2 linked regions of the Homo sapiens genome follow. The protein of the gene in region 1 purifies or fractionates together with the protein of each later gene. This does not show direct contact. Each region holds a gene or a part of one and is shown on either strand. Other genes may lie near its edges.

The links.
Region 2: the proteins of RDH5 (region 1) and DDI2 purify together in Homo sapiens (affinity purification with mass spectrometry; 3 studies listed by BioGRID and IntAct, with this or other methods). This does not show direct contact.

The regions. Positions count from the first base shown.
Region 1 is NC_000012.12:55,715,715-55,723,620, reverse strand, and holds the start of RDH5 (retinol dehydrogenase 5), read right to left. Parts: upstream 3,229-7,906; 5' UTR 3,104-3,228; intron 2,474-3,103; exon of another isoform or gene 2,469-2,473; 5' UTR 2,437-2,468; coding exon 2,127-2,436; intron 1,933-2,126; coding exon 1,674-1,932; intron 87-1,673; exon of another isoform or gene 1-86. Other genes in the region: BLOC1S1 (biogenesis of lysosome-related organelles complex 1 subunit 1), read right to left, coding at 4,012-4,122, 4,398-4,530, 6,616-6,688, 7,425-7,569. UniProt on the Homo sapiens protein: Catalyzes the oxidation of cis-isomers of retinol, including 11-cis-, 9-cis-, and 13-cis-retinol in an NAD-dependent manner. Has no activity towards all-trans retinal.
Region 2 is NC_000001.11:15,627,437-15,634,704, reverse strand, and holds part of DDI2 (protein DDI1 homolog 2), read right to left. Parts: intron 4,381-7,268; coding exon 4,144-4,380; intron 1,267-4,143; coding exon 1,140-1,266; intron 1-1,139. UniProt on the Homo sapiens protein: Aspartic protease that mediates the cleavage of NFE2L1/NRF1 at 'Leu-104', thereby promoting release of NFE2L1/NRF1 from the endoplasmic reticulum membrane.

The sequences.
Region 1 (7,906 bases):
AACAAAATTAATGATATTATCAGGTACTTATATAACAGTTTACAATGTAACCATTTAAAAATAAAAAAAACCATTATCAGCTTGTAGGCAGCTGGCCAGATCTGGCTTGAGTACTGAGTTTGCCGATTCCTGACCTAGAGGAACCCCATTCCCTTGCTCCCAAAACACATGGTTGAGCCCTGAGTGCTGGATATTGAAGGGTATAGTCTCGTATTTGCTGGAGGGTAAGCTGATGGGGAAAGTGGGGATACATCCCACTGCCCTGGCACAGATGTAGAAATCCAAGTATAGGTAAGGAGCAGGAGGGAAGGGGATAAAAAAAAATTCAAGTATAAAGTATGTGTTCCAGTATGCAGTGGCTCACACCTATAATCCCAACACTTTGGGAGGCCCAGGCGGAAGCATCGCTTGAGGCCGGGAGTTGGAGACAAGTCTGGTCACCACAGCAAGACCCCATCTGTAAAAAAATACTAGCCAGGCATGCTGGCACGCGCCTGTGGTCTCAGCTACTCAGGAGGCTGAGGCGGATATCGCTTGAGCTGCTTGAGCCTAGGAGTTTGAAGTTCAGTGGGCCGTGACTGCACCACTGCACTCCACCCTGGGTGAGAGCAAGGCCTTGTCTCAAAACTAAAAGTATGTGTCCCATGATGCTGCCTGAAAAATTAAGGCTGAGAGACAGGAGACATTCAGGTTATTTGCTGAGTGATGGTGACAAACGCAGGCTTCCTTAGAAGGTAGACTAAGCTTAGGCGCCTTATACTCCTGCTAAGAACTCAGGCCTTGGGCCGTGTGTGGTGGCTCATGCCTGTAATCCCAGCACTTTGGGAGGCCGGGTCGGGTGGATCACCTGAGGTCAGGAGTTCAAAACCAGCCTGGCCAACATGGTATAACTCCATCTCTACTAAAAATACAAAAAAATTAGCTGGGAGTGGTGGCACGTGCCTGTAAGCCCAGCTAATCGGGAGGCTGAGGCAGGAGAATCACATGAACCTGAGAGGCAGGGGTTGCAGTGAGCTGAGATCTCGCCATTGCACTCCAGCCTAGGCAACAAGAGCAAAACGCTTAAAAAAAAAAAAACAAAAAAAAACTCAGGCCCTACTCCCGTTGTCCTCATCATGTCTCCTTTGTGCTCCCACGGAACTTTGAACCTTATTGTTTAAAGACGAGAGGCAAGGCCGGGCGTGGTGGCTCACACCTGTAATCCCAGCACTTTGGGAGGCTGAGGTGGGCGGATCACGAGGTCAGGAGTTTGAGACCAACCTGGCCAACATAGTGAAACCCTGTCTCTACTAAAAATACAAAAATAAGCCAGGCATGGTGGCGCATGCCTGTAGTCCCAGCTACTCGGGAGGCTGAGGCAGGAGAATCGCTTGAACCCCGGGGGTGGAAATTGTGGTGAGCCAAGATCGCGCCACTGCACTCCAGCCTGGCGACAGAGCAAGACTCCATCTCAAAAAACAAAAAACAAACACGTTAAAAATGGGTAAAGAGAAGTAATCTACTTATGGTCACAAAGCTTACATAAGGGTAGACTTCATTGAACCCATGAAGTCTAGCCCTAAACTGTCTCTTCTTAACTATTCCAATGTGCTGTATCTTAACCACCTCTGCTGGCCCACGTTTGTTGAGTGGGCTGCTGTTAGTCCTGGAACCCAGAGCCCTGTACCCCTCACCTCAGGCTGTCAGAGAAGGCCTCCAGGCCAAATTTGGAGACACAGTAGCCCCCACCATTGGCTGCCAGGCGACCCAGGACGCTGGTGATGTTGATCACCCGGCCCCGGGCTTGCTGCAGCAGAGGCAGCAGGGCAAGGGTGACCCCGATGGGACCCATTGTGTTCACATTCAGCACCCGCTGGAAATCGTCCCGGGTCAGCCATGGTGTGGGTCCGATGATACCAGCCACACCAGCATTATTCACCAGACCAAAAAGCCCTGTGGGGAGATGAAAAGGATGCTGGGGGTAGGTGAGGCACTCCCACAGCTCCCTCTTCTTCCTGGGAGCATCTGAAAACTGCTTCTCCTCAAATTGTCCCTTTAGCTTACCACAGCCCTTGCAGGTGACTCCTGGGGTGACTGTGGGGATCAGGACACCCCACACCATATTCCTGGTGGTCTACCATACTTACCTGCTTCCTTAACGTGCATCTCCACCCACTTGGCTGCCTGCTGGACGCTCTGGGGATCAGTGATATCCAACAGGGTGGTGTGGAGGCGGGAGGAGGCCACCCGCTGCAGGTCCTCGGCCCCGGAGGGGGTCAGGCAGCTGGCCAGGACTCGGAAGCCTCTCTGGTCCAGCTGCAGTGCCAGAAGGCGCCCAAAGCCTGAGTCACAGCCGGTGATGAAGACAAAGGCATTGCTGGCGGGCAGGCTCTGCCGGTCCCTGAGCAACCACAGCACTGCCCAGAGTAAGGCACCCAGCAGAAGAGGCAGCCACATAGCTGGAGCCCAAGTGACCTACAGGTGGCAGCCTAGGCTGGGCAGAAAAACTTGTCCAGTTTACTGTGGCCCTCAAGCCCTTTCCCCTAATACCCTCCCTAGCTGGAAGCATCTGGTGTGAGCATATTGAGAAATTATCTGGTTGGCAGATAATTGGCCAACCATGGCTCATCTGTTCAAAGCAAAGATGTGGGCAGACCCTGTATTTGTGGCTAACTTAACTAAAACCACATGAGCCAGATCCTGTGTACAGACCTGCTGTATGGAGCAGAGGCATCTTTTTTTTTTTTTTTTTTTTTTTGAGATGGAGTCTCACTCTGTCGCCCAGGCTGGAGTGCAGCAGAGGCATCTTCTTGCTTGCCTCACACCACCTCTCCTTCTAAACCAGGGACACTGAACCTTCTATATGCAACCTGGGTCTTGTGTTTGGAATGATGTATAGGGCCAAGAGGTTTGCTGTGTGATACTGAGCATCTCACTGTCTCTCTCAACCTATTTTCTCATCTACCAAGTGGGGCTAAGACCCACCAGGTCCACCTCAGAGTTGTGGAGGATCAAAGGGGATAATGTGTGAGGAAGCATGTTAAAAGCTGAAAGTTTTGAGTTGGCAATACATGTAATATCTGGCTAGTCTTCTCAGTTCCCCCAGCTCCCAGTATCCACTTACCTCCTGTGGCGAAAGCTGGCAGGTACTACAGCGCCCGAAGCTTATTCTTTTGCTTTTGTTTAAGAGACTGCTCCCAGTCTTCCCAGCCTCCCACACTAACTACTGCTAAGGCCAAAGTCCGGAGTGGGTGGACTTGGATGCCAGGCGTATTAAGTGTATGTGTGACAGGGTGGGGATAGGACTGAGGAGGAGGAGGAGCCAGGGAGGCTGGAGCTTGCCTGGCTGAAGCCAGGACTTGGCAGAGGCCAGATTTGCCTAGGCTCCCCCCACCCCTTGGCTGTCTTTCTCAGCCTGGGTTCCTGACCATCTATGTCATGGTCTCCAAGGAGGAGGGAGCTGTCAAGGATGGCAGCTGCACTGCTCTGTTGGTAACGGTTACTGGACCTGTCATTCCTCCCCCTTCTCAGCCCTGAAGTGCCCCCAGGAATTAATCTCCCACCTGGCTCAGACTCATGACACTGCTTAGAGTTAGCCTGGGAGAGGCCATGAGCACGTGGAGAGGCAGAAAGCCAGAGCTGGGGACCAGGCCTGTACCTTGCCTTGTTTCTCTTCTGTAGGAAACAAGTCCTGAATTAGGAAGCTTGGGGCAGGGCTACTAGGACCTTCTCTCAGGAGGGATGGGAACTCCCACCCTCTGCTTGCCTAACAGACACCTGCACAAGGGCCATGGAGGAGAAGAGAGTTGGGATAGTAAGAGGAAGCTAGTTCCACCCTCTCCCCAAAAGGTACCTGTCCCTCAGGGAAACCACCTTTGAACCTTCCACTCCCACCCCCGACACTGGAGCTAGTAGCTCTCTGAAACACACCACAGAGAAACGGAGGCTTGTGTTTTATTCAAGGCTTGTCAGCCTCCCTCCTTCCCCCTGCGGGTGAGGTAGGAGGGATAGGGTTGGGGGAGGGAACAGGGGCTAGGAAGGGGCAGACTGCAGCTGCCCTTTGTAGACATATTCCAGTGCAGTGGCAATGGTGCGCATGTCCAGCTCGATGCTCCGAGCCCAGTTCTCCACATCCCCAATTTCCTGGGAAGGGGGAGAGGAGGTGGGAGCCCAGGAATCAGAATGGGTAGAGTATGGCTTCCAGTCTGGGGAATACGTTTTATTCATCTCCTGGAAAAGGCTTTACTTGGACCCACCAACTGCTTTTCTTTCTTTCTCTACCTTTTCTGACACTGGGGCTATAGATGGGGTTTCTGGGACCACCCTACTTCCTCCTTAACCTAAACCTGAGGTAACCTGACTGGAGGCAGCCAATGGGGGCCCAGGATTGGGGTGGTGAGGTAGGGAGTATGGCCCACCTTGAGTGCCTGGTTGAAGTTCTCCACCATTCCGATCCACTGGCCTGTCTGCTTGGCAAATTGGGCAGCCTGGACCTGTAGGGTCTTCACCTCATGGTCCAGCTTTCTCTGGTTCATGTAGGCCTGGGCCACACTGGGGGGTTGGAGGAGGGAGGAGATCAGCTCCAGCTAGTTGGGGGTGGTCTCCGGGACTAATATTCCATTGCAGCAGTGGGAGTTCAGCCAAGAATCAGGGCTCATAATTTTGGCCATTTTTGGATGTGATGCAAATGACTACCAGTACATGCAAATAAACCCAGCTCCTTCCTTTCACTCCCAGGATTCCCAGGAGAGCCAAGCTCGGAGCTGACTAGAAACATACCAGCTCCAAACCCCAAAAAGGAGTTCCTGCAGCTGAGTGGGGGAAGGGAGGGAAAACCTGGGGTGATATCCCTGAGGAAAAAGCTGGGAGGGAAAAAGGGGCATGGAAAAACTGGGAAAATCCAGCAGGAGGAACACATCTGGCAGTGATTGGAAGCCTAGGGATCTATGCAAGAAGTTGGAGAGGGAAATTGGGCCCCTCCCTGAAGCCGGGTTAGGATGGGAGTACAAACCCCCTCCCCAGGAACCCTGGGTCAAAAGAGGGTATCCCAGGGGTTTCTTCTCGGCTCTCAGTTGCTCTCCCAAGCCTTCGCTTTTGCCCACACAGATCAAGGAACACACACAAACACACACACACACACACACACACATGCTCTCCCTCCCTTCTGCCTTAGGCACTAGTTTTTCTTTTCAATCAAGGTATGGGCTGTGGTTACCATTACTACCATGGGGTTGGTGTCCCCAACCTTCTGCCAGTGTTTTTTGCCCTCCCCAACCCCTGCAATAATTGTTCTCCTTTATTGGCTGTTGAATTTTTCACTTCCCACCCCAGAGCTCTACTCAGCCAGGAGATTCCACATCCGGTGCCCCCACCCACTGGAATGTGTGGGGGCTGGAGCGGGGAAGGGGTTGGTGGGGGCTGAGGGAGTGGGCAGGACACCTGACAGGGGCCAAGATAGACTGAGCCTTTGTTTTCCTTTCCGGGGAATGAGAGGAGGCGTGGGCAGCAACACAAAACCCTTTCTAATCTGGCTTTGGCTTAGCTGCCCTCTAAGCTGAAAGTGGGGTGGCATCTAGCAAAGGAAAAGAAGAGGGAAAGGCCTGGGCCAATCTCACAAATGATGGGCACAGCAGAGCCCAGGAGGTGCCAATGTGGGAGGGAGGAAATGGGAGGGCAGACCCTGTTCCTTCTTTTTGGGAGACAGCTGGGTCACTGTCAAGGGTCGGGTAGGAACTGAAACAGACTCCCCTGAGAATTCCTGAACTTCTGGTTTTCCCCATTGACCACCTGCTTCTATATTCACACTGAGTAAAGAGAGCTGCCTGGAGAGAAGGGAGATCAGAGGCCCCAGCCACAACTTTCTTTCTCTCAACCTTCCCCCAAGATGAGTAACAAAGATGACCCCAGCCCCTGCATGGCTCACTTGGATGACTCAGTCTCTGGATTCACACCGAGCTGTTCTACTTGACCTGGGGTGGAAGGTACCATACTGCCTTTCTTCCAATAGGCAGACTAGCAAATCATCATCTCTGCACGCTTCTGGGTCACTTAGGGTCAAGAGACAATGTTCTTTGCTTTTTCCCAAGTCTTTGGCTGTTACTTGCATTCTCATTTAGGGCTGGGGCAGGGTGTGGTCCCTAGAGACCCAATAGGAAGGTAAGAGACAGCCTGGCTCTGCCATAGCTCCCGGAACAGGTTCTACTCTCACCACCACCAGCTCTGCCATCTCTTTCCTGCCAGCTGCTCCCCAGGCTTGCCAGAGGGTGGGAGGCAGAGGAGAGGGTGGTAAGCTGTAATGAAGGAGGGTGCTCTCCCTCCTGCTGAAGTGACAGCTGGACTTGGAAGGGTGAAGGGAGGTGGGCAGATGGCATCAAGTTGTAAATGCCAGGGAAGTTAACGTGGGGAAGGGGAAATCTGGCTGCTTCTCTAACCACGGCAGCTGTTCCTCCCTTGCCCAGTGCTAGGACTCAGAGTTGACTCAAGTTGCTCTACAAAGAGCTGGGAGGGGCGGGGTAGGATAGGGGAATTAGTGGAACATCCCACCCCTTCAACAGCTATTTGAGGGCCAGACTGGCCAGTGCCTAAACTTGGGCGGGGTGGGGAAGGAGGAAACTGATGTTGATAAGAGGTCCATACCCCACATTGAGGTGATCCACCAAAGCTTCTGTCAGGCAGGTCGCTGCAGTGATAGCCTCTCGCCTCCTCTTTTCTGGGGAGAGGGGGAAAAGGAATTGGAGGGGAGACTTGGTTTTTTGAGGGGTAGTGTTAAAGGTTCCCTACCCATCCATTACTATTCTGCTAGTTGCCGAAATTTCTTAACTAATCTCTGAATGCCGGAGCTGAAAAGGACCTTGCAAAACATAGCGCAACCTCTTTCATTTTAGAGATGAGGAAACTGGTACCCTGGGAGGGAAATGGACTCACTCAGGGACGCCAGGAAGTCAGCGGCAGCGCCCAGGACTCCTGACTCCCAGGCACTCTTTCTCCACTACTCGGCCGCAGAATCGGTAACTCCGAGATTTCCAGCCCGGACTCAGGAAACAAGTGCCCCACCTCCGTTCCGGTGGTTTCAGGCCTCCAAGAAGCCCATCTCTGGGGGGTTCCCCACACCCTCCTCCCTCCAGAGTCGCTCCTTCCCGCCGCCAGGACGAGAGGCTCCCAGGGCCAATAGGCAGGGCGCTCCGGGGCAGGGGCGGGGCTAAGGTGCGGCAGGTCGGGGATTGGGGGCGTTGCCGAGGGGACCGGAGTATTGCCCAAGGGACCGGAGCCAGTTGGCAAGGGAAAGGAGTTTCAAAAAAAGCCTCTCTGAAATTCCCTCTCCCCCATGCCCGTTGCCCGCTAGCTGGCGTCTTTCCCTGGATATGGTTAGTTACTCGAGATCCAGGCTCCGGGCTGAAGCTAGGCCGCGGCCGAAGAGAAAACGGCCGACAGGATATTTGGCTCACCCTGCAGCTCCTTGCGTTCATTCTGCTTGGCCTGGTGTTCTTTTAGGAGGCGGGACAGCATGGTCACGTCGGGCTGGGGGCTGGGTACGCCGGGCCCCCTCCGGCTCCGGAAGCTGGAACGCTCACCTCGGCTCCCCGGGGCCATGTCACGTGACCGCTGTGTCACGTGAGGTTGGGAACCGCCCTCTTGAGACCTTGGGTGAAGATCTTGGCGGGGAAGAGAGGTAGAGGGTTGCGGAGGGCAGGTGAAGTGTTCTTTATTGGGAGCTTAGTTTTTGGTGAGTGTTGGAAGAAGTATTTTCTAATACTTATATTGCCAAGCCAGTTTTTAACATTTCCTGTGGATCTCAGGCTTCGAGGGCTGGTGGTGTCAGGCCGTCTATCACCGTTTAATTGAGGGAGCAGAAGCTCCCTGGCCTCATTTAAATTATTCTCCTTCCCTCTCCTCACCTCCTGGCAGTGCTAGCTGGTTCTCAGTTGAT
Region 2 (7,268 bases), on another chromosome or scaffold:
AAAAAATTAGCTGGGCGTGGTGACAGATGCCTGTATTCCCAGCTATTCGGGAGGCTAAGGTGAGAACACCTCAGTCTCGGGGAGGTCCAGGCTGCAATGAGCTGTGATTGTGCCACTGCACTCTAGCCTGGGTGACAGAGTGAGACCTTGTCTCAAAAAAAAAAAGATAAAAAGAATAAGAAGTTTAAAAAAGCATGATTTAATTTCTAAGTTGATAGATAGTGTAATACAATGACCAAGTTAGGCTTCATTTAAGTAACCGGAATGATGACACGGTCCCTAAAAGGCCAAGCAGTCTAAGTGTAGTAAGTATCGTTGCTGTTATCTTCTTCTTAGTTATACTAAGTTCTTCACAATTAGCAACAAAAACTGACTTGAGGCAGGAAAAGCAGCTGTCCTTTTTTTCAGAGAATGACTGAACAGAATCTTGCTTGTGACTATCAGTGTGACTGAGGCCGGAACAGCGTCACTGTCCTTGCTTGAGCTCCATGCCCGACAATTCTGATTCATCAGATTTGGGAGAAGAGTCCAAGCATCTGCATTTTTAAAAGTTTCTCATGTGATTTTACTATAGCCCCAGGTGAGAACCACCGCATTACAGAAACTGAGAGCTGGAAACATGTCCAGCATTCAGTTTATCCACTGAGGCCAGTACAAGAAATGCAGCAGGAAAACAGACTTAGGACTACCAACGTTCCATCGGCGCAGAGCCCTCTCTAATCCAATCATGTTTAAGCCCTGGATTTAATCAGGACTTATACAATATGTCTAAAGAAAGAGAGTCAAATCAGCCCATGTAATATGCAACCAGCCTTGTGGTCTCACCAGATGGTGGCTTCTGCTCAGTCCGGGGGTCATTTATCTAAAGCTGTGTTATGATGCTCTGTCTGCTAGTCAGGGAGTCCTCCTTAAAATTTTAGAAAGAAAGTCATTAAACTAAGCACCTATATCTTTGTCATGTCAAATCGAAATGCATAGAAAATGAAAGAGGAGAGACTAACCTAAAAGACTGAGGTTACTATCTCAACTGCAAAACAGAGAAGCTACCTCCAAGCAGATGCCCAACCAATGTCAGATAACCTGCAGTCTGGGAAATCTGGAGTCTCTAAGTTTTGTTCTTTAGATGAACAGGTCTTTACCTTATATCTTCTTCTATCTTTGCCTGAGCTTCAAGGTCAAAGGGATCAGCAGAAAACAGACGAATCCTTTCTTGCTCTCTCCGGGCTCGGTCCTGCTGCTGCTCCACCAGGACTCTAGAAAATTTCTCTACAAAAATAAGGGAGAAAAATCTTAAATATCACTATATTTTCAACGTTTATCAGTACTTTTCCACACCAAACAATTTATCAAACTACATCTGTAAGAGATGCAGAGAGGATGCCTAAAGCTTATTTAAAATGAGCAATTACATTTACTTTCTGTTCTCTGAGTCAAGGCTATTTCATCATTTAAATTCAGTGTAAAGAAAGTATTTGTGGCTGGGTGTGGTAGCTCATGCCTATAATCTCGACACTTTGGGAGGCTGAGGTGGGAGGACCGTTTGAGCCTAGGAGTTCGAGACCAGCCTGGGCAACATAGCAAGACCTTGTCTCTACAAAAAATATAAAAATTAGTTGGGCGTGGTGGTGCATGCCTGTAGTCCCAGCTACTGTTGGATGGGGGTTCAAGGGTGGGGGGATGGCCTGAGCCCAGGAGGTCGAGGATGCAGTGAGCTGTGATCGCACCACACACTCCAGCCTGGGTGACATGGTGAGACCCTGTTTTTTTTTTTTTAAAAAAAAAAAAAAAAAAAGTATTTGCAAAAATTTTTTATAAGAAGTTATCTATCATATTGTTTCTACTCAGAGGTAACAACTTTCCAATTTAAAATGGTGGGGAGTGACCATGTGGCAGATCAATGTCTCCACTCCTCCATTCCTCATTGTTCTCATTATCCTACTACCTAGAAACAAAATACAGCATTATATAATCTCCTTTTCCTCTTCTAGTTTCATTTCTTTTATAACATGCCCTGCCTTAAGCCAGATACATTAAGTATAAACTATTTTTAGTCTACCTATATTTTGTGTGTGTTCTGATGAATTAATAGGCAGGAAAATTAGTAGAGAAAACACTGCTTGCTATAAGATGTATGTTACAACAAGAACCTATTTTGCAATTTCTTTTTTTTTGAGATGGAGTTTCGCTCTTGTTGCCCAGGCTGGGGAGCAATGGCGCAATCTTGGCTCACTACAACCTCCACCTCCCAGGTTCAAGTGATTCTCCTGCCTCAGCCTCCCAAGTAGCTGGGATTACAGGTACCTGCCACCACGTCCAGCTAATTTTTGTATTATTAGTAGAGACTGGGTTTCACCATGTTGGCCAGGCTGGTCTTGAACTCCTGACCTCAGGTGATCCACCGTGCCCGGCCTATTTTGCAATTTCTTAAATGGTGGTACATTTAAGTGTGCAAACTTAAATGCCCCATCATCACCATCTTTGGTGATTAGATATGCTGATATAAGAGATTAAAAGATATTATGACAATGGTTATCTGAACTACTAATGCACACAATACAGATGGATCTAAAAAGCATTAAGTTGAGTGAAAAGCCTAACACGAGCTGGGAGTGGTGGCTCACGCCTGTAATCTCAGTACTTTGGGAAGCCGAGACGGGTGGATCACGAGGTCAGGAGTTTGAGACCAGCCTGGCCAACATGGTGAAACCCAATCTCTACTAATAATACAAAAATTAGCCGGGTGTGGTGGTGCACGCCTGTAGTCCCAGCTACTTGGGACACTGAGGCGGGAGAATCGCTTGAACCCAGGAGGCGAAGGTTGCAGTGAGCAGAGATCGCGCCACTGCACTCCAGCCTGGGAGACAGAGTGAAACTCCGTCTCAAGAAAAAAAAAAACAAAGCCTAACACGAAAGAGCAGACACTCTATTATTCCATATACATGAAGTTTAAAAATACGGGAAACTAAACCATAAGATTATCAAAACAGTAGTAACCTATAAGGAGAGGAGATTGACTAGAAAGCAACACAGTGGAACTTTCTGGAGTGAGAGAAATGTCCTGTGTCTTGATTGGGGTTACAGGAGTTTGTCAAAACTCAAGGAATTGTATATTTAAAATCTGAGTACTTCGCTTAAGGTAAAGATTGCCAATTTAAAGACAGTCAATTGAGGAATGAGTCATTAAGTGTCTGTTATGTTTTTAGACTTAACCCAATTTAACTCATAAACCCAAGAGTAAAATGAGAGTAATTTACAGAGAAAACTCGATTCATAAAGATGGCTACAAGTTAGCTGGGTGCAACTGCTCATGCCTGTAATCCCAGCACTTTGGGAGGCCAAGGCAGGCAGACTGCTTGAGCCCAAGAATTCGAAAGCAGCCTGGACAACATGGCAAAACTCCATCTCTACAAAAAATACAAAAAATAACTTGGAGTGGACTGAGGTTATGGTGATTCCATTTTGCCATACAGGGCACTGAACCTTCCTGGCATCAGCTGGCATCAGCTGGCTTGTTGATGATCTCTTTAATTGAAGATCTAACTAAGGTTAAAATATCGGTACTGGCTGGGCATGGTGGCTCACACCTGTAATCCCAGCACTTTGGGAGGCCGAGGCAGGCGGATCACGAGGTCAGGAGATCGAGACCATCCTGGCTAACACGGTGAAACCCCGTCTCTAATAAAAATACAAAAAATTAGCCAGGTGTGGCAGCATGCGCCTGTAGTCCCAGCTACTTGGGAGGCTGAGGCAGGAGAATGGCATGAACCCGGGAGGCGGAGCTGGCAGTGAGCCAAGATTGCACCACTACACTCCAGCCTGGGCGAAAGAGCAAGACTCCGTCTCAAAGAAAAAACAAAGAAACAAACAAAAATCAGTACCTAGGTTATCTGCTGCCAAAAACAATGAGGAAAACAAAAAGTAAACCAAGGGGGGTGGCCTAGATGGATTTCACTGCTAAAACTCTATTGCTGTTTCCAAGTAACTCAGCCTTTGACTTTAGCACTAATTTACCTCTCACAGAGAAAAAACTGGTATGTTCAATAAATCATGTGACACAGTGTCGCTTGAGTCTCTTCACATTTGCTATGACACAGCTTCTTCACCTCAGGCCAGCCTAATAGCCTTCCAAATTTATAAGCTTACCAAGGTCTCCACTGAGCAGAGCTTCTGCCAGGGGTGGATTGCGTTCCTTCAGCAAGGACAGCTCATGCGGGTTGGCCAGCAACATATCTCGGAGCAAGGCTGGATTGTCCAAGCCCTGAGGAGATGAAGTTATTTCTCCAGGAGATGAGTGGGACTGCTGTGTTCCTGGTGGCTGGCGCTGCCGGGGACTTGATGTGCCAGGCACAGCTATACTACTGAAATCTATTCGGGGTAAGTCTGTTGGGGAAAATCAATTCAGTTTACTCAAATTACTCTACAAAAACAAGCACTTGAAGGAAACAGCAGAACACTTGCTCATACATGGTATATGACAGCAGCAAAGGTAACTGTAGACTTTAACCTTGTTCTTTCTCATGATGACTCTGAATATAAAGACTGCCGGCTGAGAGTGAATCGATAGAAGAAGAAAAATAGGGGGAAGGTGATGGTAGTAACTCCAAATTTTTAGCTTATAAAATATCTCACAATAGACATCAGGTTTTTAATTTATGTTTTTAAATCATTAAAGTGGCCAGGCGTGGTGGCTCACACCTGTAATCCCAGCACTTTGGGAGGTCAAGGTGGCTGGATCACCTGAGGTCAGAAGTTCAAGACCAGCCTGGTCAACATAGTGAAACTCTGTCTCTACTAAATATACAAAAATTAGCTGGGCGTGGTCGCAGTCACCTGTAATCCCAGCTACGCAGGAGGCTGAGGCAGAAGAATCACCTGAACCCGGGAGGTGGAGGTTGCAGTGAGCCGAGATGGCGCCATTGCACTCCAGCCCAGGCAACAAGAGCGAAACTTCATCTCAAAAGAAAAAAAAAAAAAAAAATTAAAGCTAGTTTCAATAAATATAATTGCATAAGTCTGGATGTTGTTCTTGAGAAAAATCCTACTCTGGTCTGACATATGGTTCAAACAGCCTTGACGCTTGGATTAAAGAATTTTTTTTTTTTTTTTTTGACACGGAGTCTTGCCTTGTTGCCCAGATTGGAGTGCAATGGCACGATCTTGCCTCACTGCAACCTCTGCCTCCTGGGTTCAAGTGATTCTCCTGCCTCAGCCTCCCGAGTAGCTGGGATTACAGGCGTGTGCCACTACGCCCAGCTAATTTTTTGTATTTTTAGTAGAGATGGGATTTCACCATGTTGGCCAGGCTGGTCTCGAAATCCTGACCTCAGGTGATCCACCCACCTCAGCCTCCCAAAGTGCTGGGATTATAAGTGTGAGCCACTGTGCCCGGCCGGATCAAAGGATATTATATATGTCAAGTGAGCAGCATAAATATTAGATGCTAAATTCTGCAAGTCAGTGCTAAACGTATTGGCTCAGGGAAGTTCTTAATAGTTCTCTGAATTTATACTTTAATCTGTGCATCTCTGCTAACTCTTCTCATGCCCTTGGGGAGCTAAACAGTGTCATCATTTTATAGAAAAGAAAGAAGAAAAGGGACTTGCATAGGTTCTCAGTGCTGAATACACCAAAAGCTACCACAGTTTAGAAGCTACAACTCCCAGGTTCTATATGCCAGGTGGAACTGACCTTACTAAAATGAAAGGAAGATAAAAGGGAATTTTAATCCTTACACAACGGACTCACATATTGTATGACCCCATTTATATGAAATGTTCCAAATAGGTAAATACATAGAGACAGAAAGTAGACTTGTAGTTGTCTAGGCTGCGGAGACTAGGGGGAAATGGGAAATGACTATAAATGGGTATAGGATTTCTTTTTAAGGTAATGAAAATACGCTAAAATGGATTGTGGTGATGGTTACACAACTCATGAATATAGTAAAAAAAAATCATTTAAATGCATGAATTCTATCTCAATAAAACTGTTATTTAAAAAAGAAAAATGAAAAAGAGAAAAGTAAACAAGGAGAGCCAGAATGAGGGGCTAGGCCTGAGTCAATCGACATTCCTTCAACTCCAAAAAATATAGTTGATGGTCAAACTTGTCTGAACAACTGAATACTTTTCTTAAGGATAACTGTGCTTAATGTTATAAATGACAGTACACTAAGCAATTCCACAGTGATCAGAATTATAGCACAATCCTTGCACTATTAAGGATTTTAAATAAACTAAAAAATCAAAAAACAAACAAACTTGTCTCAAGTCTGGGACTATCCTGAAGCCTTTTTGGACCTCAGATAGAAAAAGAGAATGCTTAAACTCATGATGTAACATTTCTACCCTTTAGCAGGGGTTCAACTAGCCACTTTCTTCAACTCCCAACCAAGGAAATGGTGAAGTGAAGAGGATGATCTCTGTGAGGTAGTTAATCTATACCAGCCAGAAAAACATATATGGGTGGGCCCTCTTTGCAGGTCAAGAAATTTTATCTCCACTCCTGTTATACATTATCTTGAGAGTCCATTCACTTCAGAATAATTCTCAAAAACATGTTTACTTAATAGACCAGATCACTCCTGCCCCAACCTGTTACAGGCTCTCTTGTCCATAAACAACAATGCAGAGGAAAAAAAAAAAGAAGTAAATTCCGGAATTAATAATCTCATCAAATTAACCAAAGGAAGATGTGGTTTTTACTGATTGTCATAGTTGTTTAAATACGTTTAACTTCTTCAGAAAGAAGTTTTAACTTCTTTCTAAAGTTTAACTGTGGCCCCAAGGGACTAATGTCTTCCAGATCTGGTGGAGCCGGTCCTTGATGGTCTCAGTAAGTTCCAGTTTCAGGCTGAATGGAAACACTGTGGTTAAAACTGCAGTCAGTCTGTCATCACCCAGACTCTGCCAGCATCTGTCACCATAAACTTTAAAACTGGTGACCTACAGGCTAAACACTATTTAAGAAAATCTATCTGAATATGGCAGCGAATGGAAAAAAACCACACATTTCACCAAGCTGTTTCACATTAAGACCTTATAATCATTTTGTGGATCATGAGCCACTTCAAGTATCTGAACAAAGCTATGACCCTCTCTCTATCCAGTGCACACACACATTCACATCCACACAATTCTGCATATTATTTCAGTGACATAGAACCTACTAAATCCCAATGCACAGAGTTCAGACTATAAACATCTATTATAAAAGCAGCATCAAAGATAGATAAACGTTTCTTTGTATGTGATTAACACAGCTGGTAG